Homo sapiens: one gene and its partners. The protein of the gene in region 1 purifies or fractionates together with the protein of each later gene. This does not show direct contact. Each region holds a gene or a part of one and is shown in the gene's direction. Other genes may lie near its edges. The genes, in order: TAFA4, SEZ6L2, ITPR3 and LRP11.

What was found.
Region 2: the proteins of TAFA4 (region 1) and SEZ6L2 purify together in Homo sapiens (affinity purification with mass spectrometry; 2 studies listed by BioGRID and IntAct, with this or other methods). This does not show direct contact.
Region 3: the proteins of TAFA4 (region 1) and ITPR3 purify together in Homo sapiens (affinity purification with mass spectrometry; 2 studies listed by BioGRID and IntAct, with this or other methods). This does not show direct contact.
Region 4: the proteins of TAFA4 (region 1) and LRP11 purify together in Homo sapiens (affinity purification with mass spectrometry; 2 studies listed by BioGRID and IntAct, with this or other methods). This does not show direct contact.

Annotation. Positions count from the first base shown.
Region 1 is NC_000003.12:68,929,532-68,936,807, reverse strand, and holds the start of TAFA4 (chemokine-like protein TAFA-4 precursor), read left to right. Parts: upstream 1-4,260; 5' UTR 4,261-4,568; intron 4,569-7,276. UniProt on the Homo sapiens protein: Modulates injury-induced and chemical pain hypersensitivity. Ligand of FPR1, can chemoattract macrophages, promote phagocytosis and increase ROS release.
Region 2 is NC_000016.10:29,882,542-29,889,569, reverse strand, and holds part of SEZ6L2 (seizure 6-like protein 2 isoform 5 precursor), read left to right. Parts: intron 1-844; coding exon 845-1,030; intron 1,031-1,752; coding exon 1,753-1,921; intron 1,922-3,820; coding exon 3,821-3,984; intron 3,985-7,028. UniProt on the Homo sapiens protein: May contribute to specialized endoplasmic reticulum functions in neurons.
Region 3 is NC_000006.12:33,680,322-33,687,321, forward strand, and holds part of ITPR3 (inositol 1,4,5-trisphosphate-gated calcium channel ITPR3), read left to right. Parts: intron 1-7; coding exon 8-133; intron 134-233; coding exon 234-359; intron 360-2,202; coding exon 2,203-2,323; intron 2,324-2,885; coding exon 2,886-3,076; intron 3,077-3,698; coding exon 3,699-3,847; intron 3,848-4,035; coding exon 4,036-4,144; intron 4,145-4,276; coding exon 4,277-4,367; intron 4,368-4,452; coding exon 4,453-4,622; intron 4,623-5,037; coding exon 5,038-5,212; intron 5,213-5,321; coding exon 5,322-5,506; intron 5,507-5,731; coding exon 5,732-5,932; intron 5,933-6,087; coding exon 6,088-6,198; intron 6,199-6,687; coding exon 6,688-6,783; intron 6,784-6,904; coding exon 6,905-7,000.
Region 4 is NC_000006.12:149,861,353-149,869,350, reverse strand, and holds the start of LRP11 (low-density lipoprotein receptor-related protein 11 isoform 1 precursor), read left to right. Parts: upstream 1-4,991; 5' UTR 4,992-5,330; coding exon 5,331-5,943; intron 5,944-7,998.

The DNA of each region.
Region 1 (7,276 bases):
CTAGAAAGCTAGAAAGCTGGGGTAAATAAAAAAAAGTTAGAAAACAGTGCTTTGAAAATTTCAAAGACAAATGTAAAGGAATAGACAGATGCTTTAAAAACATTTAAATTTATTTTTATATATTTAGGAGGCACAAGGGCAGGTTTCTTACGTGGACATGTTGCATGGTGGTGAAGTCTGGGCTTATCGTGTACCCATCACTTGAATAGTGAACACTGTACCCAACGGGGAATTTTTTAGCCCTCACCCCGCTCCCACCCTCCCACATTTTGTAGTCTTCAATGCCTATTATTCTACATAGTATGTCCATGTGTACCCAGACAGAGGCTTTTTGCTTTTTCTCTGTTCTTTCTTCACTTGTTTCACTGTTCAACCACTCGAACACAGAGCTGACAGTAAGCGAGACTGTTTCAAGGCATAAGTCGGCCATTTAAAGGTGGTTTCAACCACGGGCATATTAGCCTTTTTGGAGTGTCAGTTTTCTCATCTGTAACATGGAGATTATAATAAGAGAATTTACCTTGTATTTACCTTTACTTATATTTACATGGATTATAAAGATGATAATCCGTGTGAAGTACATAGTATAGTGAGCCACACACAAGCCTCCAATTAAGTCAGCTATCATTCTTATTAGTCTCCTCAGAAAAATTACTAAGTGCAAAATTGTGTTGCAAATTTTTAAAACTGAAGCTTCGCTAGAAACAAGAGGATTTTTTAAACAGGCCCAGGAGAGTCAGAACGTTCCTTTCAGGCATAGTCAGTCATCAGCACGTATTGATTAAGCACCAGGACATGCCAGTAGTGTTCTGGATGTTATACAAATGAGGAAAGTAAACACAATGTCCAAGTCACGTGGTGTCACTACCTACAAATACAGAGGCACATCCAGGGGTGTTTTGTGAATGTGTGGTGTGTGCAAAATACCGTTGGCGTGACCTTCACAGGTTCTTACATAAGAAAATAAATCATTTGACCCCATTTTTAGGAAACAGATGTTGATTGATTTTACACAACCTCAAAGGATGCAAAATGGGTCGCAAAGAGAGAGAGAAAGAATGTTACCGAATGAATGACAGGAATGTTTTCTTGTAAGAGGAACTACTGTCTCTGCCTGGAACAATTTTTGCCCAGATATTCGCTTGGATGGCTTTTTGTCAGTTAGGTCTTGACTCAAACGTCACTACCTCATAGGGACCTTCTCTAGGCAGCCAATCTAAATTAAACCCATCCTCATATCCTTCTAATGCTCTAGCCTTCTTTTATTTTCTTTTAGCACTTATTGTGCTCTGAAATGACCTTATTCATATATTTGTTGAATTATTTACTGTCCAACCTTCCCCACAAGAATACACGCAACTCACATGTGCCTTGTTTGTCACCATATCCTAGAGCCTGGCTCACAGCAGGCGCTTGATAAATAGCTGAATGAGGAAACAATTGGATAATTGGGGCTTAGTGGCTATTTCTTTTTTTTTTTTTTAATATAGCTTGCCTTTTTTGTGGTGATTTGGTTAGTAAATCTCAATTTATCAGATCATTCTGGCTTCTTGCTACTGCACAAGAGACATCAGGTCATTGGAAACTTACAGATGAGTCCCTTAACTGTACTATCTTACTTTAGAAACAAACACACTTTTATGCTTGTATGAATTTGCTAGGGCTGCCATACAAATACCACAAACTAGGTGGCTTAAACAACAGAAATTTCTTGTCTTACAGTTCTGGAGGCTAGAAGTCCAAGGTTAAGGTGTTAGCAGGGTTGGTTCCTTCTGAGGGCTGCAAAGAATTTGTTACACGCCTCTCTTCTCCCTAGGTGGTTTGCTGGCAATCTTTGGCATTCCTTAGCTTGTGGAAGTATCACTCCATCTCTGTCCTGATTTCTACATGGTGTTCTTCCTGTGTGCATGTCTGTCTCCAAATTTCCCCATTTTATAAGGACACAGTCATACTGGATTCGGGCTCATTCTAAAGACCTCATTTAATTTAATTCCATAAAGACCCTATCTCCAAATAATGTCACATTCTGTGGTACTGGGGGTTATGACTTAAACATATAAATTTTAGGGAGACAAATTTGAACCTCTAACAGTACTGAACATCCAGGATGGAAGAACATGGTATTAGGTTGAGCCAAACACAGTTGCTTACGTTTTGGTTTTCCTCACCAGGACAAGAAACCCCCAGTGCAGGAAAATTGGAGACATGGAAAACAGGGCTTAAGTAAACACGCAGATCTTTGCCAGAACCATGTTTGTCACACAGTGTGGAAGCAACGAATATCTGGTGAACAAATGAATGTGGACTTGTTCTTCTAAATGACTTGCTCCCTCACTTCTTCCAAGTCTTGGTTCAGATATTACCTTCTCAGTGGGAACTAGCCTAACTACTGTTCTTAAAACCACCATCTCCCCAGTACTCACCTTCTTTTCTGTTACTTTCTTTCTCTCTATAACACTGACCACTTTCTATCAAACTCTGTAATTCACTTATTTGTCATGTTAATTGCCCATCTCTCCCTACTAGAAGATAAGTTCCATGAACTCAGGAACTTTTCACTGTTGTGTTTCCTTCTCTATGTACCAGCACTTGTTACAGCGCCTGACACAGAGTAGGCCCTCAGTTTTGCTGAGTGAGTGAATGAATGAATGAATGCTGTTGAGAAAGAGCTCTGGAATCTCCTGGCATGCTATTTCAGGTTTTGCTTGGATCTCCCCTTTGGCCGTCACAGAACTTCAATGCTAGTCTTTAAAGGAAATCTCAAAGATCAAGCGCCTATCTCCAAAGCTTGAATTCTCTCTTAAACTGGTGACATCTTGATAACAAATTGCCTTTGAATGTAGAACCCCCATTTTAATAATAAGAGAGTAAGAGATTGAAACTGTTTAACAAGTAAAATGTGCTATGGTATGTGTGGTACGGGGAACAGAAGCAGAAGGCCTGCCATACGTTAGTTCAAGGGGTAGAGTCAGAGAAGGGTGAACATACTTTGGAGTGCAGCAGGGGCAGGATGGCACATAATTGTATGTCAATGCAGAGTAAAAGGACCAGAAGATGATAAGCCAAGCCAATGACAGTGAGCAGCATAGTGGTACAGAGCAACGTTTTCTAACTTTATGCATGCACCAGCCACTTGGGCATCTTGTTAAAATGAAGATTCTACTTCTGGGGTGGGGCCTGAAAGTCTGCAGTTCTAAAGTGTTCTCAAGGGACCGCTCTACGACGCCATGCTTTGCATACTAAAGAGCATGGATTTACTAGTTACCTGTGTAATCTTCAGTAAACGATTTAACTTCTCTGTGCTTCAGTTATCTCATCTATAAAATAGAGATCAGATGAACTAATCCCAGTAAAATGAATACCATTAAGTGACACTGATTATCAGTTACTTCACTTGCGGAAGAGTGGAGGGCATGACTAGGAATGGGGTGGGAGGAGGGAGTCAAAGAAGTCTTAGCTGAATTTTTTTTTTTTTTTTTTTTTTTTTTGAGACGAAGTCTCGCTCTGTCGACCAGGCTGGAGTGCAGTGGTGCGATCTCGGCTCACTGCAAGCTCCGCCTCCCCGGTTCACGCCATTCTCCTGCCTCAGCCTCCCGAGTAGCTGGGACTACAAGCACCCGCCACCACGCCTGGCTAATTTTTGTATTTTTAGTAGAGACGGGGTTTCACCGTGTTAGTCAGGATGGTCTCGATCTCCCGACCTCATGATCCACCCGCCTCAGCCTCCCAAAGTGCTGGGATTACAGGCGTGAGCAACCGAGCCCGGCCCCAGCTGTATTTTATACATTAAAAAAGAAAAGTATTTAGGTATTCATACGTGGGCCGAGTTTTCTCCTCTCTCATACAAGCACATTACACGCGAAGCCAGATTAGTTCATGAATGTGCTACTGCACGGGGTGGCTAAGAAATCCTGCTTGCAAACCGCTTTGGGTCCTGCGTGGAGAATGGTTTCGAGTGAGAGCCGAACCCTAAATCCGTCTTCCTTATGTGGAGCTCAACGCGACTCTCAGGTATTCAGGAAGAATACCTTTTGCTCAGCACCTGCGGAGTGGTGGCCACAGCGAGGCGCTCGGGAGAGGCGCCTGGAGGCCGGCAGTGGGGGCGCGCCGCCTGAGCAGGGGTGCGGGGCGGGGAGAAGGCCGGCCCACGTGGACCGCGGGGCCAGGCAGGGACAGGAGCAGCCGGGCGGCCCGGCCAATCAGCGCGTTCCGCGGCGGGCCCGGCCCCTCCTGGTCAGCGCGCTAGCTGGGCTCGGCTCCGCACTGCTAGCTGCGCGCCGCCCTGGACGGGGCGCACCGACTGCGCGCGCGGCTGCGGGCAAACATCGGGAGTCCTGCCTCAGCTGCCGCTTCTCCAGCAGCAGCTTCAGGCTTCTCCCGCAGGAGCTTCGGGCTTCTCCTGGTAGAGACGTGGGAACTTTTCTTCTCCTGGCGAGGCTGCAGAGGTGATGGGCCGCTCCCGGGGCTCCCGCGGGGAGGCGGCACGGTGAGCGTCCTCGGGCTCCGGTGCGGCGATCAGTACCTAGTTCCGGACGCGCCGGTCCGACTTGGATGCCGGCTCTAGTCGAGTAAGAAGGGTTGGAAGGGATAAGGAGGGGCGAGAGGATGGGGTGGGGGTGGATTTGGACCCTGTATTTAGGTGCTGTCTCGTGGGCAGCCGCTGCCTCTCGGCTGGTACCGAGTTAACTCAGCTCGGTGCAGCTCCCCTCATCCCGGCTCTCTGGGGCGCCGGGGAGAGTGCCTGTGCTGAGGTCGGCGTGCAACCCGAAGTTGGAAGGGGCACTCCGAAGTAAGGATGTGTGGCTGGAGAGAGGCAGCGGCCGCTTCCAGTTTCGGGGTTCATGTCTGACAGAATCCCCGGGGGTGCTCTGCTGATGCGGAGGAGGCCACTCGATGAATTGGTATAGGGGGTGGTGAACTCACCGTGAGCTCTTTTCTGGACAAGTCGACCTTAGCGCTTCATCCCTTTAATCTGAGCTAGGATCTTTCTAGGAGCAAGCAGGTGGGAGCCGGTCAGCGTCCCCCCGCCCCCACCCCCACCCTGAAGCTCTGGTTGCTAGGATCTTGCTTGAAGGGCGCAGCGAGCGCTCGGGAGGCGTCTTCCAGCTGGGAGCGCAAAGCTTCCCGCCCAAGTGGAGAACTGGAGCGGGTCTGGAAGTTGCGTCTCTTTCCGCGGGAGGCATCTCAGATTTGCCCACCAAGGTGGCATCTCTACATTTCTTTCGCTCTTTTTCCCACTTTGCCCTGTTAATCCGCTCCTAGAAGAGAGGGCATCCTTGACCCTACGCAAGGAGCTCGGGAGAGGATTGGAACTGGAAAGCTTGATCTCCTGCACCTGGTGAGGCTGCCCAAGCCAGACACAGTGCCGCTGGTGCGTTTTCTTCTCGAATCAGCATCATTTAACGTTTAGGGGCTCCACGGAGCCTTAGTAAAGCTGTGAATCAGCTCCTAAGCAGTATGTACATGCACGGGTTCACGGACTCGCCGAGACCTAGCCTGGTGCCCATCCCCCGTCACCGAGATTCAGGGACCCCCCTTTGGTTTAACGTCTTTATCCCTGAACTCTTTTCCCTTTTAACTTTTCAATGGTCTTCCCTCTGAGACAAGCAAGGTTGATGTGATGTGACAGGCGATCCCCGTGTGTGGGGATGGGCGCCTTCGAAGCTTTGGTCTGTTTCTGTCTCTAATATCCTTGGCATAAAGCTTGTCCACCATAACTCGTAGCTGCCACCTGCAGACTCGGTCACCCAAACTTGTGCACACTGATGGCCTAGCTTCCTAATCACACGCATCTTCGTTTGGCCCCCTCTAGAACACTCGCTGAGGAGGGAAGAGGTGGGGGCAGTTTGTGTCAGAGCCCAGTTCAGGAAGGCCTTGGATTTTTTTAAAGGCTAAAATAATTTAGGAACAGCCATTTTGCAATATAATTAGTGTTACCACTCAGTCACTGAGAACAAATGTATGACTTGAAGAATTCTTCAATAGCTCGCGTGGGTTTTATAGTGAGAAGAATTTCTGCTAAGTTTATAGTCATATCAGTGTGAAAGCCCAACACTTCCTCTAGATGGGAAATACAGGCCTTAATAAGGTAGTGTGAGAGCAGTTTTCAGAATCATTATGACGAATGATGACTTGTGTCCTCCCAAAATGACCGAGTGAGTTGGCATGGCTCATTTGTGGAAGAAGCTTTCTTCATATGCACGGACATTTCTTAATCAATATTCTCATAGCAGAAAGCCGTATTTCAAGGTTCCCTTCCTAAGTTCTTCTGTCTCATTGTTCTGCTTTGCGTGACTTTGCTTTCATCCCTCAGTACCATCTTAACTGCCCTTTGACACTTTAAAATTTATTATAAGGCTTCAAGTCACAATTTGACTTGGCCACTTTTCCCTGCTAAAGATAAGTAAGTTGTCCTGTCCAGAAAAGCAGTGGCTGCCAATTTCTCTATCTTTGAATGACTTTAATTGTATTACTTGTTCCCTTAGCACATACAAAAACCCCTACAAATATCTCTGCTTGATTATTGGATATTTTTCATTGAAGGCAACCATTTTTATATTTCTAGTACTAGAATATCCTAGGTCACTTGAATTTCAATATTCATTTTCTGATCTTTTTAGACATGTGTATTGTTTGATGACCTAGTTCCATTTAGTAATTAAAAAAGAAAAAGAAGAAACTCCTTTGCTCCCCGCTACCACCTCCTTTTCAGTGGTACCTAGCCTTTTCCTAATAGCTGCTTTTTTTCTGCACCACTCATTTATTGTTACACTTAATATAATACTTTGCTATGTAAATGGCATGTTGATGCATGTGATATTAAAACTGCATTCACTGGGGATTAACCATTGGATATGACATCATCAGCAGCCAATCCTTGATCTGATTTGAACATGCATTGACAAAAGTCATATTATCATATTGAGCAAGTGATTCTATATTGCCTGTGATGAATAAGGGAAAGAAGGAAGTCTTTTTGGCACTTACTAACTCTCCGTTAGCTGCCCAGTTTGAGAGTTTTGGGTATTTCTATACTAAGAGGCTTAGCTTAATAATAACATTCTCAGATTGCAATTTTATAGATCTCTTTAGAATTTGCATAAGTAGATTTTCCCCCTTGTGCTTTCTTCCTCTTTGCGAGTTTTTCACCCTGTGTTCTGGCTCTGTTTCTTTACAAATATGTAAAGACATCACAGTAAATGGACTAATCTTTTGCTTTTATTTTTTGTCCTAGAGATAGCCACGTAGGTGATGGGCTAATTTGAGTACATGAGTT
Region 2 (7,028 bases), on another chromosome or scaffold:
TATACCACAGGGCACCTTGGTGGAAGAAAGGCTGTGTGTGTGGAGGGAAGAAAAATCAAAAGAGACATTTAATAACTTGGAGCCTCAGTGTTCACACCTGCAAAACAGGTCACATAATCTTTTTTTTTTTGAGACAGAGTTTTGCTCTTGTCGCCCAGGCTGGAGTGCAATGGGACGATCTCGGCTCACTGCAACCTCTGCCTCCTGGGTTCAAGTGATTCTCCTGCCTCAGCCTACCAAGTAGCTGGGATTACAGGCACCCACCACCACGCCTGGCTAATTTTCGTATTTTTTAGAGACGGGGTTTTACCATGTTGGCCAGGCTGGTCTCGAACTCCTGACTTCGTGATCCACCTGCCTCGGCCTCCAAAAGTGCTGGGATTACAGGCGTGAGCCAGCATGCCTAGCCAGGTCACATAATCTTTGTCTGCTGACCTCAAAATCTCTGTGTGGACTCACTTTGGGAGCTGAACAAGCTCTGCAAATACTGTTATTACAGCTGGATGAAGTTCAGAGTAGTTCATTGATTTGCCTGAAGTCACACAACAAATGAGTAGCGGGGTCCAGAATAACTTGTTTGAACCTCAGATACCTCATCTATAAAATGGGGGCCAACGAGGGTGAATTACAATGAGTGGGGGAGATAAGGGGTGTTGGAGTTTCCTGTTCGCGAGGCAAGGTGCCTGTGTGAGGAGCTCTTATTTCTCGGTATGTACGCCAGTATGGAGCCAGTGTGTGCCCCTGGAAGGTTGGCCTGAAAGGAGAGGGGGGAAGTGCTGGGGGATCAGTATGAGAGGGTGGCATGGGAAAGTGAGCCCTGCTACCCGCTGTCTGTCTGGTGCAGCCTACCTCCTGAGCTGTGGCTTCCCTCCCCGGCCGGCCCATGGGGACGTGAGTGTGACGGACCTGCACCCTGGGGGCACTGCCACCTTTCACTGTGATTCGGGCTACCAGCTGCAGGGAGAGGAGACCCTCATCTGCCTCAATGGCACCCGGCCATCCTGGAACGGTGAAACCCCCAGCTGCATGGGTGAGTCTCCTGCCACAGTGGGTGGGGCATCTGTTCTGGGAACCCCATTGGGAGGGTCCTATCTCGGGGGTGTCCAGGTGTCCACCTTTGGGGAAAACCCATTCTGAAGGGGTGTTTACCCTGAGGAGTCCCCATCCTGGGGTCTGCAGCCAGAGCTCTTTGTGCGGAGGGTCTCTCTCCTTGGGGTTTCTCCATCCTTGGGTGGTCTCCATCTCGGGGTGTCCCACTGGAGATTTTATTTTGGGAGTCACCATTCTGGAGGTCCCTTCTGGGGTAGCGTCCTCATCCTAGAGGAAGCCATTTTTAGGGTTCATGTCCAGAGGGCTTCTATCCTAGAGAGCCTCTTACTGGGATTCCCATCCCGTGGTGTCTTCACTCTGAAAGTCCTGTCCTGAAGATTTCCCAGCTGAGGCTTTGAATTTTAGGGATCCTTGTAACTCCCCATCCTAGAGTATCCGCAGTTGGAGAGTCTTCATTTTAGTGGTGTCTCCATCCTAGGAGGTGTCAATCCTGGGGTTCTCCCGTACCGGGGCTGGTTTCTTTCCTGGCTCATGCCTGGAGAAGGTCCCATCCTCTGGAGTGACTCCATGGGACAGAGGCCAGCCCTGGGCCGGGTCCCAGCCAAATGTGTGAATGCAACAGTTCTGAAAACGGGCCGAGGCCCCGAGGAGAAGGACAGTTCACCTCAGGCTGGCCTTAACGTACCCCTCCTCTGCCCACAGCATCCTGTGGTGGCACCATCCACAATGCCACCCTGGGCCGCATCGTGTCCCCAGAGCCTGGGGGAGCCGTAGGGCCCAACCTCACCTGCCGTTGGGTCATTGAAGCAGCTGAGGGGCGCCGGCTGCACCTGCACTTTGAAAGGGTCTCGCTGGATGAGGACAATGACCGGTAAGGGTCTGGGTCTTGGGTCAGAAGTCCCCACCTTGGCCGGGCATGGTGGCTCATGCCTGTAATCCCAGTACTTTGGGAGGCCGAAGCAGGCGGATCACAAGGTCAGGAGATCGAGTCCATCCTGGCTAACACGGTGAAACCCCATCTCTACTAAAAATACAAAAAAAAAAAAAAAAAATTAGCCGGGCATGGTGGTGGGCACCTGTAGTCCCAGCTACTCGGGAGGCTGAGGCAGGAGAATGGCGTGAACCCGGGAGGCAGAGCTTGCAGTGAGCCAAGATCGCACCACTGCACTCCATCCTGGGAGACAGAATGAGACTCCGTCTCAAAAAAAAAAAAAGAAGTCCCCACCTCAGGGAAGTAGGGAGGCTAAGTGGGGACTTGGACACAGCTGGGGTGGATCCTGGTTGAGATATGCATCACAGCTTAGTCCTAAGCCTTTTTTTTTTTTTTTTTCTTTTTTTGAGACAGAGTTTCACTCTTGTTGCCCAGGCTGGAGTGCAGTGCCGCAGTCTTGGCTTACCGCAACCTCTGCCTCCCGGGTTCAAGTGATTCTCCTGCCTCAGCCTCCTGATTAGTTGGGATTACAGGCATGCACCACCATGCCCAGCTAATTTTGCATTTTTAGTAGAGATGGAGTTTCTCCATGTTGGTCAGGCTGGTCTCAAACTCCCAACCTCAGGTGATCTGCCCACCTTGGCCTCCCAAAGTGCTGGAATTATAGGCGTGAGCCACCACACCCAGCCAGTCCTAAGACTTTCTTAGGAAGTGTAGCTGTGAAACCTTAGACAAATCACTTAACTTCTTTGTGCCTCAGTTTCCTCATCTGTAGAATGGAGATAACAATACTTCCCTCTTCAGGTTTCTGTGAGGATAAGTGCTGAAATTATATAAAGTCCTTAGAATGGCACCTGGGACAATAAGCACTATAAAAGTGTCTGCTATCCTCTTTTTTTTTTTTTTTTAAGATGGAGTCTCACCCTGTCGCCCAGGCTGGAGTGCAGTGGTGCGATCTCGGCTCACTACAACCTCTGTCTCCCAGGCTCAAGCTATTCTCCTGCCTTAGCCTCCCGAGTAGCTGGGACTACAAGCGTGTGCCACCACGTCCGGCTAATTTTTTGTACTTTTTTTTTTAGTAGAGTTGGGGTTTCACCGTGTTAGCCAGGATGGTCTCGATCTCCTGACCTCGTGATCCACCCACCTCAGCCTCCCAAAGTGCTAGGATTACAGGCATGAACCACTGCACCTGGCCTTATTTATCTATTTATTTATTTTTGGAGACAGACTTTCGCTCTGTCACCCAGGCTGGAGTGCAGTGGCACGGATTCAGCTCACTGCAACCTCCACCTCCCAGATGCAAGCAATTCTCCTGCCTCAGCCTCCTGAGTAGCTGGGATTATAGGCATGCACCACCATGCCTGGCTAATTTTTGTATTTTTAGTAAACATGGGGTTTTACCATGTTGGCCAGCCTGGTCTTGAACTCCTTGACTTCAGGTGATCCACCCGTCTTGGCTTCCCAAAGTGCTGGGATGACAGGTGTGAGCTGAGCCACCATGCCTGGTCAAGCATCTGCTATCTTCATCATCATTATCATCCTTTACCTAGCAACTTGGTATCTCAGCCCTGCCACTACTTGCTCTGTGACCTTGGACAGGTTACTTGATCTTTCTATGCCCTAATATCCTCATCTATAAAATAAAGGATAATAATAGTGTCTGACTCAAGAGTTCTTGTGAAAATTAAATGAGATAGAATGTGTAAGGGCTTAGAAGAGTGCGTGGCATATAGTTATGTGTGATGATAACAGCTATAAAAATAAGTTAGGAAAGCAGGCAAGGGGTGAGGCAGCTTGTGAGGGAGATTGAGCTCCTGGTCACGTTTCTGTCCATCCCAGGCTGATGGTGCGCTCAGGGGGCAGCCCCCTATCCCCCGTGATCTATGATTCGGACATGGACGATGTCCCCGAGCGGGGTCTCATCAGTGACGCCCAGTCCCTCTACGTGGAGCTGCTGTCAGAGACACCTGCCAATCCCCTGCTGTTAAGCCTTCGATTTGAAGGTAAGTGACCCACTCCCCCACAGGACCCCAACCGCCACACCTTCCCCTCTTCCTGACACCAAGCATAGTCGGAAGCACAAACTCTATGCCTGTTCATCTCCGTGCTGGGTTCCTTGAAACGTGACTCGCTTCCCTGCCCCAAAACTGCAAGGATCTCTTCTAGGGACCCCTTCTCCTTCCCCCAGGCAGCCTTCTCTGTTTAAGCTTCATGAATGTCTGGATCCAGGTACATAGCCCAGAGACCAGTTATCTCAGTATCTCGGTTCTTTCCTCTGTGCTGGCTTCATCCTTAGGCACTTTCCCTGTGTGATGGACATAGCTGCCGACTTACATACCACCAACTTAATTTTTATTTTATTTATTTATTTATTTATTTTTTGAGACGAGTCTCGCTCTGTCACCCAGGCTGGAATGCAGTGGCGCCATCTTGGCTCACTGCAAGCTCCGCCTTCCGGGTTCACGCCATTCTCCTGCCTCAGCCTCCCGAGTAGCTGGGGCTACAGGCACCCGCCACCGCGCCCGACTAATTTTTTTGTATTTTTAGTAGAGACGGGGTTTCACCGTGTTAGCCAAGATGGACTCGATCTCCTGACCTTGTGATCCGCCTGCCTCGGCCGCCCAAAGTGCTGGGATTACAGGAGTGAGCCACCGCGCCCGGCCTTTATTTATTTTGAGACGGAGTTTTGCTCTTGTTGCCCAGGCTGGGGTGCAATGTCATGATCTCGGCTCACCGCAACCTCTGCCTCCCGGGTTCAAGCGATTTTCCTGCCTCAGCCTCCCGAGTAGCTGGGATTACAGGCATGCGCCACCATGCCCAGCTAATTTTGTATTTTTAGTAAAAATGGGGTTTCTCCACGTTGGTCAGGCTGGTCTGGAACTCCCGAACTCAGGTGATCTGCCCGCCTCCGCCTCCCAAAGTGTTGGGATTACAGGCGTGAGCCACTGCGCCTGACAGTTTTTAGTTTTTATTTATTTTTATTTATTTATTTATTTTGAGACAGAGTTCCTCTCTGTCGCCCAGGCTGGAGTGCAGTGGCGCGATCTCAGCTCACTGCAGCCCCCCTCCTCCAGGTTCAAGCGATTCTCATTCCTTAGCCTCCCGAGTAGCTGGGATTACAGGCATGCATCACCACGCCCAGCTAATTTTTGGGTTTTTAGTAGAGACGGGGTTTCACCATGTTGCCCAGGCTGGTCTTGAACTCCTGGGCTCAAGTGATTCGCCCATGTGGGACTCCCAAAGTGCCAGGATTACAGGTGTAAGCCACCTCCTCCAGCCCATACCACCAACCGAGTAACCTCATCAGAGAGAACACTCATATATTTCCTGAGAGCTCAGCAAAAATGCCAGGAGAGGCGTTCATTGACCTGACTAAGATCCTGGTTGGCCTTAGCCTGAGCCAATCACTGAGCTAGGAGAAGGGAGTATTGGGATTGGCTAATCTGCCTCACGTGGCCTTCCCTGGTGGGCTCCAACTTAACCTAGTGGACTGGGAGTGGGGAAGGCCTGCGTCCCAAAATTAAAATTGGGATGCCGTTACCAGAAGAAGAGGAATGAATGTGAAGGGGTAGAAACAAGGAAGTGATCATGGAGGAAGAGGCATTTCACCTTGGCCTTAAAGGATAGAGGGTATTTTATTATTATTATTATTATTATTGAAATAGGTCTTGCTTTGTCGCCCAGGCCGTAGTGCGGTGGCCCGATCATGGTTCACTGCAACCTCAACCTCCTGGGCTCAAGTGATCCTCCTGCCTCAGCCTCCCTAGTAGCTGGGACCACAAGCGTTCGGCACCATGCCTGGGTAATTTTTACATTTTTTGTAGAGACAGCATCTCACTATGTTGCCCAGGCTGGTCTCCAACTACTGAGCTGAAGTGATCCTCCCACCTCGGCCTCTCAAAGTGCTAGGATTACAGGCGTGAGCCACCCTGCCCAGCCAACAGAGGATATTTTAAAAGAGGAAGATTGAGGCCAGTTGTGGTGACTCGTGTCTCTAATCCCAGTACTTTGGGAGGCCAAGGTGGGATGATTGTTTGAGGCCAGGAGTTTGAGAACCAGTCTGAGCAACATAGTGAGATCCTGTGTCTACAAATTAAAAAAAAGTAATAATTATCCAGGTGTGGTGGCACACACCTCTAGTCCCAGCTACATGGAAGGTTGAGGTGGGAGGATCACTTGAACCCCACTTGAACCCCAGAGGTTGCAGTGAGCTATGATTGCACCACTGTGCTCCAGCCTGGGCAACAGAGCAAGACCCTGTCAAAAAAAAAGAAGAAAAGAAAAGAAAAGGAAAGAGAGGAACTTTGAGAAACAGCAAGTAGGGAAATGCCTGGTATGTCTGGGAAACAGAATTTCATTGTGGCTGAAACAGAGGAGTTGTATAAACAGTAGCAAGAGAGAGACCAAAAAGATGAAATGCTTAGAGATAGGAGGGTCTAGTGTTTGATATGAATCATGGGAGAAATGGAATTGGCACTCGGCTGTGATGGATGGGTAGGATTTGGACATGATACCTTGCAGGTTAAGTAACAGTGAAATAGAACAGTGGATCTGCAAAAATGAATTGCGGGATAGATTCTGGGAGTGTTAAAGTGCAAACAGCACAGATCTTTTACCGAAAATAGCAAGTTGTGAGTCCTGACTCCAGAGTTGTAGGCCACTGCTATTCTATGAGTTTAAGATTCTTCACTGTGGCCAGGCACAATGGCTAACGCCTGTAATCCCAGCACTTTGGGAGGTTAAGATGGGAGGATCACTTGAGCCTGGGAGTTGGAGACCAGCCTGGGCAACATAGCAAGACCTTTGTCTCTACAAAACAAAACAAAACAAAAAATTAGCCAGGTGTGGTGGTGCACACTTGTGGTCCCAGCTGCTTGGGAGGCTGAGGCAGGAGGATCGCTTGAGCTCAGGAGGTCAAGGCTGCTGTGAGTTGTGATCCCACCATTGCACGCTCCAGCCTAGGTGACAGAGCAAGGCCCTGTCTCATTTTTTTCCTTTTTTTTTTTTTTTTGAGATGGAGTTTCGCTCTTGTCACCCAGGCTGGAGT
Region 3 (7,000 bases), on another chromosome or scaffold:
TGCCCAGGTGAAAATGGCCTATGTGAACTTCGTGAACCACTGCTACGTGGACACGGAGGTGGAGATGAAGGAGATCTACACCAGCAACCACATCTGGACGCTCTTTGAGAACTTCACCCTGGACATGGCCCGGGTCTGTCCCTGTGAGGGGTGTGGGTGAAGCCCCCCAGGAGGTGTGGGAGTGGAGGGGCCCCATGTGAGGAGCCCCCAGCCATCCCTCTCTCCTGCCTCAGGTCTGCAGCAAGCGTGAGAAGCGCGTGGCTGACCCCACCTTGGAGAAGTACGTGCTGAGCGTTGTGCTGGACACCATCAACGCCTTCTTCAGCTCCCCATTCTCTGAGAACAGCACTTCCCTGCAGGTGAGCTTCTCCTCTCCCACCACCCCAGGGCCGACTTGCCTAGCTTTTGTGAAGGGAAGGGGGGAAATAAGAATACATATTTATATTTGCTTATAGTACAGAAAGAAGTAACAAAAGGATACATAAGTGTATTGGTTATCTTTTTTTTTTTTTTTTTTGAGATGGAGTTTCACTCTGTCGCCCAGGCTGGAGTGCAGTGGCGCGATCTCTGCTTACTGCAAGCTCTGCCTCCTGGGTTCACGCCATTCTCCTGCCTCAGCCTCCCGAGTAGCTGGGACTACAGGTGCCCGCCACCACGCCCAGCTAATTTTTGCATTTTTAGTAGAGACAGGGTTTCACCGTGTTAGCCAGGATGGTCTCAATCTCCTGACCTCATGATCCGCCCACCTCGGCTTCCCAAAGTGCTGGGATTACAGGTGTGAACCACCGCGCCCGGCCTAAGTATATTAGTTATCTATACCGTGTTAACAAATTATCCCCAAACCTAGCAGTTAAAACAACAAGCATTCGCTATCTCAGTTTCTGTGGGCCAGAATGACGGTGGGAATGGTACCATCCAGCAGGAACTCCTAACTCCAGTGGGTGGGCGGATCCCGGAGTGGCAGCACTTATTCACCAAAGATAAGGCAGACGTGCCATCCATGGGATGGTACAGCCAAAGCAGGGATCACGACAGTCTCCCTGGCAGGATCCTTCGTGCTGGCTAGTTGATCATAGTGATCTTAGAACTGAAATAGGCAGGCAGCCTTCTGAAGGCCTAAGCAGAAGGGCTCCAGGCCAGTGTACAGAAGCCTGATTTGAATCTCGAAAGATTCATGGCTCCTTGGTCAATCCCCAGATTCCCAGACTCGAGCCAGTGCTCAGCCCAGAGCCCCCCTGAATGAAAGCGAGCCAGGTTCCCTTAAGGAAGGGCCCTGCTACATGACCGAAATCAAAGAAACACTGGAAGGATACAAAAGAAACCCACAAAAGGGGCTACCTAGGGGCATAGGAGCTGGGGTGGGGTGGGATCGTGCTTCTAAGTCTGGGGGGAAAAATGCTGAGTCCTGCCTTCTCAGGAAGGGTGGTGTATTTTGACACACATTGTTTGGGCCCTGGGATCGCATTGGGACGATGGAACTCTGGTAATTGATATCAGCTTTCCCCATCCTTGATCAGCTCCAGGGCAATGAGGGTGATGGGGGAGAGACTTCTCAAAGTGTTATGTTTTTTTTTTTTGAGACGGAGTCTCACTTGGTGCCCCAGGCTAGAGTGCAGTAGCACAACCTTGGCTCACTTGCAACCCCTGCCTCCCAGGTTCAAGCAATTCTCCAGCCTCAGCCTCCTGAGTAGCTGGGATTATAGGCACCCGCCACCACGCCCGGCTAATTTTTGTATTTTTAGTAGAGACAGGGTTTCACCATGTTGGCCAGGCTGGTCTCGAACTCCTGACCGCAAGTCATCCACCCACCTTGGCCTCCCAAAGTGCTGACATTACACGTGTGAGCCACTGCGCCCAGCCTCAAAGTGTTATCTTTTAAATAACCTTTTGGTTTTTCAACCATGTAAATCCATCACCTTTTTATGACATTAATTTTTTTAAACATTTTTTAAAAGGGTCAGCAACATGGCTATGAGCCCACGGCCTTGGTGAGTTACAGGGCTGCCGTGTACAGTTGGGCAGGTCGTGCACTGCTGAAGGGAATACAAGTACCTTTTTCCAACTGGCACAGAGGCACATGGTGGCTAGTGAAGGCTCCGTCTCTCCACCCATGCCCATTCTGATTGGGCCCTGGTTCCTGGACCTGGGGTTGCCCAGGGTGGGGGCCTGGGCTGCAGCAGCGGGCTCTGTGACTTCTTGCAGACACACCAGACGATTGTGGTGCAGCTGCTGCAGTCTACCACACGCCTCCTCGAGTGTCCGTGGCTACAGCAGCAGCACAAGGGCTCCGTGGAGGCCTGCATCCGGACCCTCGCCATGGTGGGTGAGTGTGCCGGGGCACTGGCCAGCCCCAAACCACTCCTCCTGCCGCTCACAGTGGGGACGCCTGCCCTCCTAATAAACACTTTATCCCTAAGCTCGCCCATCTCCTGCTCCCAGGTGGTTGTCAGTAAGTTCTTCTTGGCGTCTGCCTCATCCTGGCAATTGAGAGAAGCTGTTTTCTCCTCTGGGTCAGTTCCCCAGAGAAGGATGCTCGCCGACATTCTCCAGCTAGTTTTTTATGGGTATTTGCAGATGGGCTCAGGCAGGAGCAGGCCTGTGGATTGTTAGGGACAGTTGGGGAAGAAGAGAGGACAGGTGAGAGAGAGGAAGGGGAAGTCAGGGTAGAGCCGGGGGGAATCAAAGAGGCAGAAACTCCTTTTACCCAACAAGGGGAAGAAAGCCTCTCAGTCCCTCAAGCATAGGCCGGGGTGGGGGGGGTCTCTGTCTCCCAGACCCTTGGTCTAGTTCACTCTGTCTCCTGGTGTGGCAGCCCTGAGCCTGGCCTCTGGCTGGCTGAACTGCCCCCGCACCAGCACTCCAGCACTCCCTCCCTTCCCACCCAGCCAAGGGCCGGGCCATCTTGCTGCCCATGGACCTGGATGCCCACATCAGCTCGATGCTCAGCAGTGGAGCCAGCTGTGCAGCTGCCGCCCAGCGGAACGCCTCCAGCTACAAGGCAACCACGCGGGCCTTCCCCCGCGTCACCCCCACCGCCAACCAGTGGGACTACAAGAACATCATTGAGAAGCTGCAGGTGGGTGTGGGGCTGCCTGGCATCTGCCTCGGGAGCTGCTTGGTTGAGTCAGCAGCTCCCCTACTTTGGAGGGGCAAGTTCTCGGGGAGTGTTTCTTCCTGTCCTGCCCACACTTCCAGGAAGGGGCTGGTTGGCTTCTCTACACTCTGGGGCTGCTAAGGGCCGACCCAGCAGCAAGGGACTGGGGAACCTCCTTCCAGAGGAAGCCTGGAGAACCCAGAGGCCTGCTAGTGGGGTTGGAGCTCATGAGGGGGTCGGGACCACCCCTCACTCCTGCAGCGCCCTCCTGTCTATGCAGCACATTTCTGTGCGCTGTCTCGTTGGCCTGTAGAGGGGGTGTGGTGGATTATTTTCCCCACGTGGCAGGAGACTGAGGCTCAGAGAGGCTAAGGGGTTTGCCCAAGGTCACACAGAGCTGGGAGAGAAGCCAGGCTTGGCAGCTCCCAGCCAGGGCTCTGAGCAGACAGACATCACGCTGTGTTCAGGGTGTCTCTGTGGGTGTGGGCCCCTCAGACAGAGGCAGGGCAATCTGTGGGGCTGTTTGGCGTTTGGGTCGGAGGAATGGCAGTCACACCCGGGTCATTTCTTGGGCCTGGCAATGACTCTGCCCTGCCCACCCCAGGACATCATCACAGCCCTGGAGGAGCGGCTGAAGCCCCTGGTACAGGCTGAGCTGTCCGTGCTGGTGGATGTCCTGCACTGGCCTGAGCTGCTCTTCCTGGAGGGCAGTGAGGCCTACCAGCGCTGCGAGAGTGGGGGCTTCCTGTCCAAGTGAGCGAGACACTGGGGCATGGGGGCAGCAGGGGTGCAGCGGCAGGGGACAGAGAAGGGCCCGGTGGGGACTAGACAGGCTCACTGGGTCAGAGGGCCTGGGGGTGTTCCTGCCTGGGATGGGGTGGGGAAGTAGCTGGAGGGAGGCAGTGTGGGGCTGCCCTGAGCTGCCTCCTTGGCCGGCTCAGGCTGATCCAGCACACCAAGGACCTCATGGAGTCGGAGGAGAAGCTGTGCATCAAGGTGCTGCGGACCCTGCAGCAGATGCTGCTCAAGAAGACCAAGTACGGGGACCGGGTGAGTGCCCTGGTGGGGCAAGTGCTGGGTGGGCCAGTCAGGAGTACCCAGGGGCTCAGGGTCAAGCCCGTCAGGCCAGTGGTCAGTGGTGGGCTGTACCCACAATGGGGCCTCACTCCCATCCTCCCCCAGGGCAACCAGCTGCGCAAGATGCTGCTGCAAAACTACCTCCAGAACCGGAAGTCCACCTCGCGGGGGGACCTTCCCGACCCCATAGGCACTGGTCAGTATCACCTTCCCCTGCCCCCGGGCCCTCCCTTCCACTCTCCTGTCACACCAGCTCTCCCTCAACCGAGTCCCGCCTCCAGGCCTGGACCCAGACTGGTCGGCAATCGCAGCCACCCAGTGCCGGCTGGACAAGGAGGGGGCCACCAAGTTGGTATGCGACCTCATCACCAGCACCAAGAACGAGAAGATCTTCCAGGAGAGCATCGGCCTGGCCATCCACCTGCTGGATGGTGGCAACACAGAGATCCAGGTGTGGGGGGCCTGGGGCCTGGACATGCCCTCCTTTGCCTCCCTCCCTTTTTGGAGGAGGTGGGCCTTGAGTTGGGCACTGAAGGCCGAGGAGGGTGTGAAAGAGGAGAGGCCTGAGCAGTGGCTGAGAGGTGAGAAGAGTGGGCATGATGGGGGCAGGGTGGTGAGGAGACGGGCTCAGGCCTGGCTGGGGCAGAGGGGTATGCGGGGGTGATGAAAGGACCACGTGACACAGGAGCAGATATGGGGCATGGAGCCGCCCATGGGTGGCCATGGATGCTAGCCACCAGCACCCAGGCCTGCAGCCAGGCCCCTGCAGCCCCAGCGGCCCCAGCAGTGTGGTGTGCCTGCCCCACGCCCTGAGTAGGAGCAGGGCCCAGTGCTGAGGTTGTTCCCTGGCCACTGTCCACCTCCAGAAATCCTTCCACAACCTGATGATGAGTGACAAGAAGTCAGAGCGCTTCTTCAAGGTGCTGCACGACCGCATGAAGCGGGCCCAGCAGGAGACCAAGTCCACGGTGGCAGTCAACATGAATGACCTGGGCAGCCAGCCACATGAGGACCGCGAGCCAGTCGACCCCACCACCAAAGGTCAGGGGTCTGAGGCAGAGGCACGGCGTGACGGGGATCCCAGGATAAGATGTGCAGGGGGGTGGCCAAGGGGGTGGGCAGCTCCAGCCTCACCAGGTCTCGCCCACAGGCCGCGTGGCCTCCTTCTCGATACCTGGCTCCTCATCCCGCTACTCGCTGGGCCCCAGCCTGCGCCGGGGGCACGAGGTGAGCGAACGTGTGCAGAGCAGTGAGATGGGCACATCCGTGCTCATCATGCAGCCCATCCTGCGCTTTCTGCAGCTGCTGTGTGAGAACCACAACCGGGACCTGCAGGTGAGTGCCTCGCCACACACCTGCCCCTTCCCCCGCTGGCCAGCCGGCATGCAGACTAGGCAGTGTGGCTGGTGTCCCTCTATGGCAGGTGTGCCCTGCCCTGGGCACTGCTGCTTTGTGGCTGGTGGTTCCCCTACCCCTGCAGCACACAAGATCGTGCTTCCCAGGCCAGCCTCCCTCTCCGTGCTGTAGCTGTGCTGTGCCCAACCCTTCTGTGCCCCGCAGAACTTCCTGCGCTGTCAGAACAACAAAACCAACTACAACTTGGTATGCGAGACGCTGCAGTTCCTGGACATCATGTGCGGCAGCACCACGGGCGGCCTGGGGCTGCTGGGGCTCTACATCAATGAGGACAACGTGGGCCTCGTCATCCAGACCTTGGAGACCCTCACTGAGTACTGCCAGGGCCCCTGCCATGAGAACCAGGTGAGCTGTCCTGGTGGCATAAGTGGCAGCCAGGGTGGCAGTGTGGACATGTGGGTAGATGGAGCCAGCTGGGGCAGGGAGAGAGGCTGAGGTCTCTGGAGCTGCCACTATTCTGAGAGGGCCTGGGCCCTGTGTCCCCCACTGCCTCCTGCCAGACTTGCATTGTGACTCACGAGTCCAATGGCATAGACATCATCACCGCACTGATCCTCAATGACATCAGCCCCCTGTGCAAGTACCGCATGGATCTGGTGCTGCAGCTCAAGGTGGGGCCCAGTGGCAGGTGTGTGAGTGCTGGGTGTGCATGTGATGTGCATGCATGTATGTGTGACTTGTGTGTCAAGTGTACATAGTGGTGTGTAATGTGGGTGTTAGCATTGTGTGATGGGGCATCATCTGGATGCACAAGTGTGTGGTGTGTGCAGGGTGTGTGTGTAATATACGCATGTTTAAGCATGCTGGAACATACACTCACTCTGGATGCAAATATATTCTGGTTTAGCTGAGGACTTGCTATGTGTGTGTCTGCTGTCTGGGTAGCTGAGTGTTTGCCACAGCGGGGGTGAAGGCAAGCCTATGGGTGGGCTGGCTGTGCAGGATGCTTCTCATTAAGCCGGGGGGAGGGAGGATGGGAAGGTCATGGCACCTGACCTTTTGTTGGATGGGAGAGCTGTTATGGAGAGGAATGAGGGAGAAGTTGTCAGGGGCATGGTGTCCTGAGACTGTGGCCTGCCTCCCTCTGCCCCTCCACCCAGGACAATGCCTCCAAGCTGCTCCTGGCTCTGATGGAGAGCCGGCATGACAGTGAAAATGCTGAGCGAATCCTCATCAGCCTGCGGCCCCAGGAGCTGGTGAGGCTGGGCAGGTGGGCAGGCGGGCGGAACCAGGTGGAGTGTGTTGGGATGGGGATGAGGGCCCGGCTGGCCCTACCGCCCTAGGAAGAGAGCATTGGAACAGGCACTGCCCCTCCAGGTGGACGTCATCAAGAAGGCCTACCTGCAGGAGGAAGAGCGTGAGAACTCGGAGGTGAGCCCACGTGAAGTGGGCCATAACATCTATATCCTGGCG
Region 4 (7,998 bases), on another chromosome or scaffold:
ATGTTCAAGCAGACATGGGGCATTGCCTGAGTCAACGCAGAAGACAACTTCTCAGGATTTTCCCCAGTTACTACCACGTCCTTCCTCTAAGAACGGCCTCTCTTTCCATCCTCAATGAGGAGAGGGAAGGCCATGTTTGTAGCCCTGTTTGTGCCTCATGGTCTCTGCACACTAACCTCAGTTTAGGGTGGACACAGGACCAAGCTAGACTCATCAGAGTCTCTCTCTTGGTACTGATGGTCACTGTTCTGAGTTTCTGTTCATTGCTGCAGGTGAGGTGAGATAGACTCAGGCTCTGTGCATGGAGGGCAGAAAACTCCAGACTCTGAGAGAAGCATGAATCAGATGTGCAGAGAGAAGTGGAGATCTCAGACTACTTGGTCCCAGAAGAGAGAAGCAGCAACTGGGAGACCAGCTGCTTGACTGCTGAGGGTTCTGCCATGTCTGGTCCAGGCCCTCCCAAGGCCTGGCTGCATTTCCTCCCTGCCTGTGAGTGCATGTGTGTAAACACGGTAGCTATTTTTTCTTTAAACCAATCTAAAATGAGTTTCTGTTGTTTGCAATCCACAGAGATTTAACTAGGATGAACCTAGATCACTGAGCTGCAAGGCAAGAACTCCATGAGAGGAATTCCAGGTAGAAGGCCAAGTAGGTGCTCAGGGGAGAGATTTGAGACCAGAAAGTGTCAGGCAACTCCTGTCTTCACTCCCTCCCTCTCTCAAGGCTATGTATGCACTGTTCTCTATTTCCTCTTTTCACGGTTCCATTTGTCCCCCTCTGCTGAACAGCTTCTCTCTGCTATCATCCCCTTCCATGTCCCCTGGAGCTCACCTGGCTTCCCAGCTACACTTCCCTCCCTGACTCAATTTGTTGAGTCAGTTTGTTGAGTTGATTTGCTGAGTCAGTTTGTTTCTCAATTCTGTTTTTACATTCCTTGGAGAGAGTATCTGATTGGCTGTGCTTGGGCCAGGCATTCATTATTGATTCCATCCCTAGTGAACAGGGGGTGTGGCCACCTGGGGGTTGGGGCTGCCCCTTCCAGGGACGTGAGCAGAGCAGATTCCATGAAAGGGGTATGGAGAAGGAAGAATCTTAGTGCAACAGCCACTCAGCTGGGATGTTGTAGAGGAGATTCAGGCTTCAAGTGGTTTCATGACTTCTAATCTTAGGAAAGGTCCTTCATTTCTGTTGTAATAACAACAACAACTAGCATTTATTGAACTTCTATAATGTGTCAGATGCCCTTCTAAGCACTTCACATGCACTGACTTAACTTATTCGATGCCTGTAAAAGTACTTAGATGGGCAGTAGAGGGGAGGGGAGGGCAACAAAAAACGATGTCACTAGGGTGTTGCTGTAGATTGGATGTTTGTAACCCCCCAAAATTCCTATGTTGAAACCTAATGTGATGATGTTTGCAGTGGAGAATTTGGAAGATGATTAGGGCATGAAGGTGGAGCCCTCATGAATGGGATTAGTGTTCTTATAAAAAAGATCCCAGGCCAGGCACGGTGCCTCATGCCTGAAATCATAGCACTTTGGGAGGCTGAGGCAGCCAGATCATAAGGTCATGAGTTCGAGACCAGCCTGACCAACATGGTGAAACCCAGTCTCTACTAAAAATACAAAAATTAGCCAGGCGTGGTGGTGTGCGCCTGTAATCCCAGCCACTCAGGAGGCTGAGGCAGAAGAATCGTTTGAACCCAGGAGGCAGAGGTTGCAGTAAGCAGAGATTGTGCCTCTGAACTCCAGCCTGGGCAACAGAGCGAGACTTTGTCTCAAAAAAGAAAAGAAAAGAAAAGAAAAAAATCCCAGAGAGCTCCCTAACTCCTCCCACAAGGTGAGGACTCAGTGAGAAGACTGCTGTCTATGAACCAGGAAGTGGGCCCTCACCAGATATCAGCGTCTGCCAGCACCATGATCTTGAACTTCTCAGCCACTAGAATTGTGAGGAATAAATTTCTGTTGTTTAGAAGCCTCCCAGTCTGTGGTATTCTGTTACAGCAGCCCAGCTAAGACACAGGTTATCTCATTCCAACATTCAACAAACTGACCTACGAAGTCCAATCTCAATTTGATCCACTCTTACTCTTAATGATCTATCTTATAAAACAGAAACACATCTTCCTGACATTTTCATCCTCACATAAAAATTCTTCTATCCATTGATAAGGTTTTGATGTTTAGGCTTTTAAAACAAAGATAGTTTATTTCTGAAAAAAACTGAAAAGAGAACTAGAAAAAGAAGATAAATCACAATGCACAGTGCAATGAAACTTCGTTTTTAAAAAATAGCCTTATTAACATATAATTGACTATACCCACTTAAAATACACAATTTGATGAACTTTGATCAATGTATTCACCAGTGAAACCATCACCACAATCAAGGTAATGAACACACCTATCACCTGCAAAAGTTTTCATGTGCTTCTCTGTAATCCCTTCCCTTCCTACTCAAACTCATGCCTCTTGTCACAAGGTTTCTCCACTCTGGCTGTTGGGAACGAACTATTGCCTGGCCAATGCAAGCTCAGAAGTTTTTCTGCCAGCTTTTTTCTAGTGGTTGCCTCTCTGTCTTGGGAAGTTTCCTCACATGCATGTACCTGGTCGAACTTCTGCTGAAGACTCAGAGGAACCCTGCACAGATCTCCAGAGCTCCCTCCTTCCGTTGCACTCTCTCCTCTCTGGTACTCTAGCCACCCTGGCCTCCCTGAATTCTCAGCTCTATTTTCCAACTCAGAGTCTCTTTTGGTTCGCCTGTCTGCATTGCGGCTTGGAAACCCTCTCCAGGCAGTAAGCTGGAGCAAGCAGCATGTTCACTTCCTTTGTCTCCCTTCTCTTGGGCCCTGCATTGCCTGTTGCCCAATGTCTGAAAACCATTGTTCCATACATTTTTTTCACAGATTTTTCATTTCAGGTCACAGAGTAAGTCCAGTCCTTGTTGCTCCCTCCTGGCTGAAGCAGATGTCAACACTTATTTTTAAAAAATAGAAAATCATTTACAACAAGCTCATTGCAAAAAAAAAATTCAACAAAGTCTTATAAATTATAAAAGTCAGTATTTCCCCTTCAGTACTTGCAACTCACAGCCCAGAAATAACCACTGCTCACGGTAAACACAACATTAAATAATTTCCACTTCTCCCAAAAAGACCTATTGTAAAGTTGCAGATGCAGGAAAATCTTTGATGGTGCTGGAGGGATTTAGAAATGAATGCCCCTGAGAAATGCTGTCCTCTCCCCTGTCCACTTCCCTACCACGGAACATGTGAGCTAGGGCTCACTCTATACTGACTTCTCTTTCACGGTCCCAAAGGCAGGAGTGAGGTGGTCAAAGTCTCTGTGAAGGCACATAAAATCATGTATGTGAAAGTGTTTGGCAAACTTTGAAATCATGTACAATTCTTAGTTAATATTATATATTATCATGTTATTTTTAATATTAATAACTTATATAACAACTAGTCCTTGGAGGGTTTGATGATACCCTCAGTCAGCATTTTCATCACTAGTGAAAGTTTCTCCTCATAACAATCCTGCTCAAGCTCTCCAAGGTCTATGGCAAAAAATAAAAATAAAAAATAAAAAGCATTATGTTGCTTCAAGGTCATCTTACAATGACTGCAGTTGTGTGGGATGAGTATGCCATATGAGGAAGAATCTCCAGGCCGAAGTGGTACAGTCCAGACACAGCCTTTAGAGCTAAGAGGCCATTTCTTTTAGCCTCAAAAATCACTCAAATATACCCCTGCAAAAACTTTATAATTTCTCCCTTTGATGGAATGGCAAGTAACATTGAGCTTTTTTCTTTCTTTTCTATTGCTACCTTTTAATTTTACCTCCTACTCTGATCTGGATCTGCAAGCAATGGGTTCCTAAATGTCAACTCTGGAGATAATAAACACATAGCAGAGACTGATATTTTCCCACCAATTATTTATTCTTTCAATCCTAAAAAATACAGACACTTAACAGTGTTCTATTTACAATGTGCGCATCCAGGCAAAAATTTCCGGACAGGCTAAAAAGCAAGAAAATGCGATCCACAATCAGGAGAAAAATGAATCAACAGAAACTGATTCAGAAACAAACAAGATGCAGATGCTGCTCACAGAAGTCTAGAACGCCAAGGTGAAGCCCCCACTGGGTTGGACATTTTCTTATTCCTTATGTCATTTAAAGCACAACTCCCGAGATTTTACGTGATATAACCGCTAGAGGCCTCTCTGTCACAGGCTGTATTACTCCCAGGTCCCCATGTTGGCTGTGTTCAGATTTTTTGTTATATTTGTGGAAATCTGAGTGCATGTGACGACTGCTATTTATGGGTTTTGTTTTTATTTTTAAAGACAGGGTCTTGTTCTGTCCCCCAGGCTGGAGTACAGTGGTGTGATCACAGCTCATTGCAGTCTCGAACTCCTGGGTCCAAGCCATCCTCCCAACTCAGCCTCAGGACTTACAGGCGAGTACCACCTCACCAGGCTTGATTTTTGTGTTTTTAAACAGACTGAACATCTTTCAGTACTTCCCATCCCCACCCCTCCCGGCCCTGACTCCGCCACCCCAACCCCGCCCCACTTTGTACTACCCAAGCACATCTTGGGAACATGATGCGGAAAGTCAGGGACGCTGGAGGTGAAGGACTGATGACGCGCTACGGTGGTCCTAGGTGCGCGTGCCCCCTCTCTGGAGTAGTCCCGGGGGTCACGAGGATTTGAAGACAGGCCCTCCCTTCCCACTGCCCCCATTCCCCCGAATGCCAAGCCCCTGTGGGCAGGCGCCCTGGGCAGGTGTGGTTGGTTGCTAAAGCCTGCTGGGCCCAGACATGAACCCTGCCCTAGCTGGGCAGCGGCGCGGGAGCAAAGTTGTTCTGAGGCTGCCCTCCCCGGGGCCTGCTCTCCCAGCCCTGGAGGAGCCGGCGCGAGACGCGCGGGGGCGGGGCCGCGCGGGGGGGCGGGGCTCACCAAGGCTCCACCCCGCCGCGGCCACTGTTCGCACACACCTGGTGCTGATCAACGCCGAGGCCGACTCGTCGCCACCCAGCGCGCCGCAGGCCGGGGCGGAGAGGCGCAGGGCGCTGGGCAGTCTCCGGCGAGGGCAAGGAGCGGTGCCCGGCTGGGCCGGCTATGTCTCCCGCTACTGCGGTTCCCGCCGGCGCCCGCGACCTCGGGGGAGCAGCCGGGTTCGGGGGCGCCGCGCTGTGAGGCCGGGGCCTAGAGCCAGCCGCGGCCGCGCAGGAGGGGCCCAGGGCCCGCGCTCGCCCGCGTCCCCGCCTTCCTCCCGCGCTCAGCCCCGCCTCGGCTCGCTGCCCTTGGCTCTCGTCGCCATGGCCTCCGTCGCCCAGGAGAGCGCGGGCTCGCAGCGCCGGCTACCGCCGCGTCACGGGGCGCTGCGCGGGCTGCTACTGCTCTGCCTGTGGCTGCCAAGCGGCCGTGCGGCCTTGCCGCCCGCGGCGCCGCTGTCCGAACTGCACGCGCAGCTGTCGGGCGTGGAGCAGCTGCTGGAGGAGTTCCGCCGGCAACTGCAGCAGGAGCGGCCTCAGGAGGAGCTGGAGCTGGAGCTGCGCGCGGGCGGCGGCCCCCAGGAGGACTGCCCGGGCCCGGGCAGCGGCGGCTACAGCGCAATGCCTGACGCCATCATCCGCACCAAGGACTCCCTGGCGGCGGGTGCCAGCTTCCTGCGGGCGCCGGCGGCCGTGCGGGGCTGGCGGCAATGCGTGGCGGCCTGCTGCTCCGAGCCGCGCTGCTCCGTGGCCGTGGTGGAGCTGCCCCGGCGCCCCGCGCCCCCGGCAGCCGTGCTCGGCTGCTACCTCTTCAACTGCACGGCGCGCGGCCGCAACGTCTGCAAGTTCGCGCTGCACAGCGGCTACAGCAGCTACAGCCTCAGCCGCGCGCCGGACGGCGCCGCCCTGGCCACCGCGCGCGCCTCGCCCCGGCAGGGTAAGCGCGCGACTGAGGGGCCGGCCTTGGCCAGAGCGCTCGAGACCCGCAGCGCCCTCGCCAAGTTGGAAGCGAAACACACTCGTGCCAAGTTATTTTAGCCGCGGGCACCCAGAAGAGTTTCTGGCATGGGTTTCTCTGTCTTAGGGAAGAGGAAGCCCAGTAGTTTGGCAGAAGCGGGCGGGCGGGCGCGGTGACGTGCTACTGGAATTTTTCTAGGCTTGAAGAGAAAGGCTGATCTGAGAGGATTCGTGGAAATATGACTTAAAAGGGGAGAAATGCTGAGAGAAAAAAGTTTGTTTTAGTCTCATGGGTTGTATAAGGCATGGTTTGTGTTAAGTAATTGCAAGAGCAAAATCTAATTAGATGCCGGGCTTCTCGTAACACCCACTCCTTTTTCTTGACGTGGCTCTCCTGACTTTGCCTGCGGTGGCTTTCATCATACAAAAATGGGAGGAAAACTTCTGGTCCCTTTTATAAAAAGTGAAAAGAGGGGACTTGATTTTCGTTGAAAATAAGAAACTTTAAGGCCGGGCGTGGTGGCTTATGCCTGTAATCCCAGCACTTTGGGAGGCCGAGGAGGGCGGATCACCTGAGGTCAGGAGTTTGAGACCTGCCTGACCAATGTGATGAAACCCCATCTCTACTAAAAATACAAAAATTAGCCAGAGCTGGTGGCATGCGCCTGTAATCCCAGCTATTCGGGAGGCTGAGGCAGGAGAATCGCTTGAACCTAGGAGGCGGAGGTTGCAGTGAGCCGAGATCGCGCCATTGCACTCCAGCCTGGGCAACAAGAGCGAAACTCCATCTTAAAAAAAAAAAAAAAAAAAGGAAAAGAAAATAGGAAACTTTAAAGCGTGTTTCTTAAGGACTAAAAATGATGCTGATTCGACGGTTTGACTTTTTGTAGATGCTCTGAATGAGAGAATCAGGACACATACAGGAGGCACAAAAATGGTAGTGGTTGGACATGAATGTCACGGAGGGAATAAGAGACCTTGATTGTGCCCACGTGTGGTCAGGCTCCGTGTGTTTAATCATGCCCTGTTGCTGTTTGATTTATAATAGCACGAATGATATCAGCAAGATGGGGGCGGAGCTCAGCCCCTTTGGAAGTGTGGATTCTCCAAAACCTGTGGATCCATTGAAAGAGTCTGGAAATCTGTGTCCATCACATCCTGCCTCCCTCCCCACCTCTACCTTAGATGAGGCTCAGAATCCTTGTCAGGGGAGCAGATATCAAAGGGTCACCCTGCGACTGCTTGGCCTTGAGGCAAACACTGGGAAGGACTCCATAGCTTTCCTTCTGAAGTGGAGGCAGGCAGCACTTTCACTTGGACCCCCCATCAGCATCTCTGAGGCCCACCACGGCTGTTGCACACACATCCTCTCTGCCCAAACACAGACCAAAATATCCCAGCAGCAAAGAAACAAAGTCTTTTCTCTGTGTTCTCACTACTTACCTGGAAGAAACTGACATTGCCAAAGTGAGCTTTCCTATAAACCCAGAGGAAACCTTTGAAAAGGAAAATAAACAAGGAAAGAATATGCCATAGAACAAAAATTTTAAAGTTTAGATTACTTGGAGACGCCAGGCACGGTGGCTCATAACTAACCCCAGGACTTTGGGAGGCCAAGGCGGGTGAATCACTTGAGGCCAAGAGTTAGAGACCAGCCTGGCCAACATGACAAAACCCGTCTTTGCTAAAAAGAAATAAACACAAAAATTATCCTGGCATGGTGGCGCCTGTCTATGATCCCAGCTCCTCGGGCGGCTGAGGCAGGAGAATCGCTTGAACTGTGGTGGTGGAGGTCGCAGTGAGTACAGATTGCGCCACTGCACTCCAGCCTGGGCAACAGAGGGAGACACTGCCTCAGAAACAGAAACAAAAACTTCAGGTTACTATGAGAAGTTTCTGGGTTGTTTTTCCTCTTGCTTGCTTCGTTGCCCTTCCTTTCCCCAGGGGAGTTTGTCTAGGAATTGTTTTGTAGATGTTTGGGATGAAAATAGGCGAGCGCGGTGCTGGTCCTCATTTCTGGGAGAACACTGCTGTG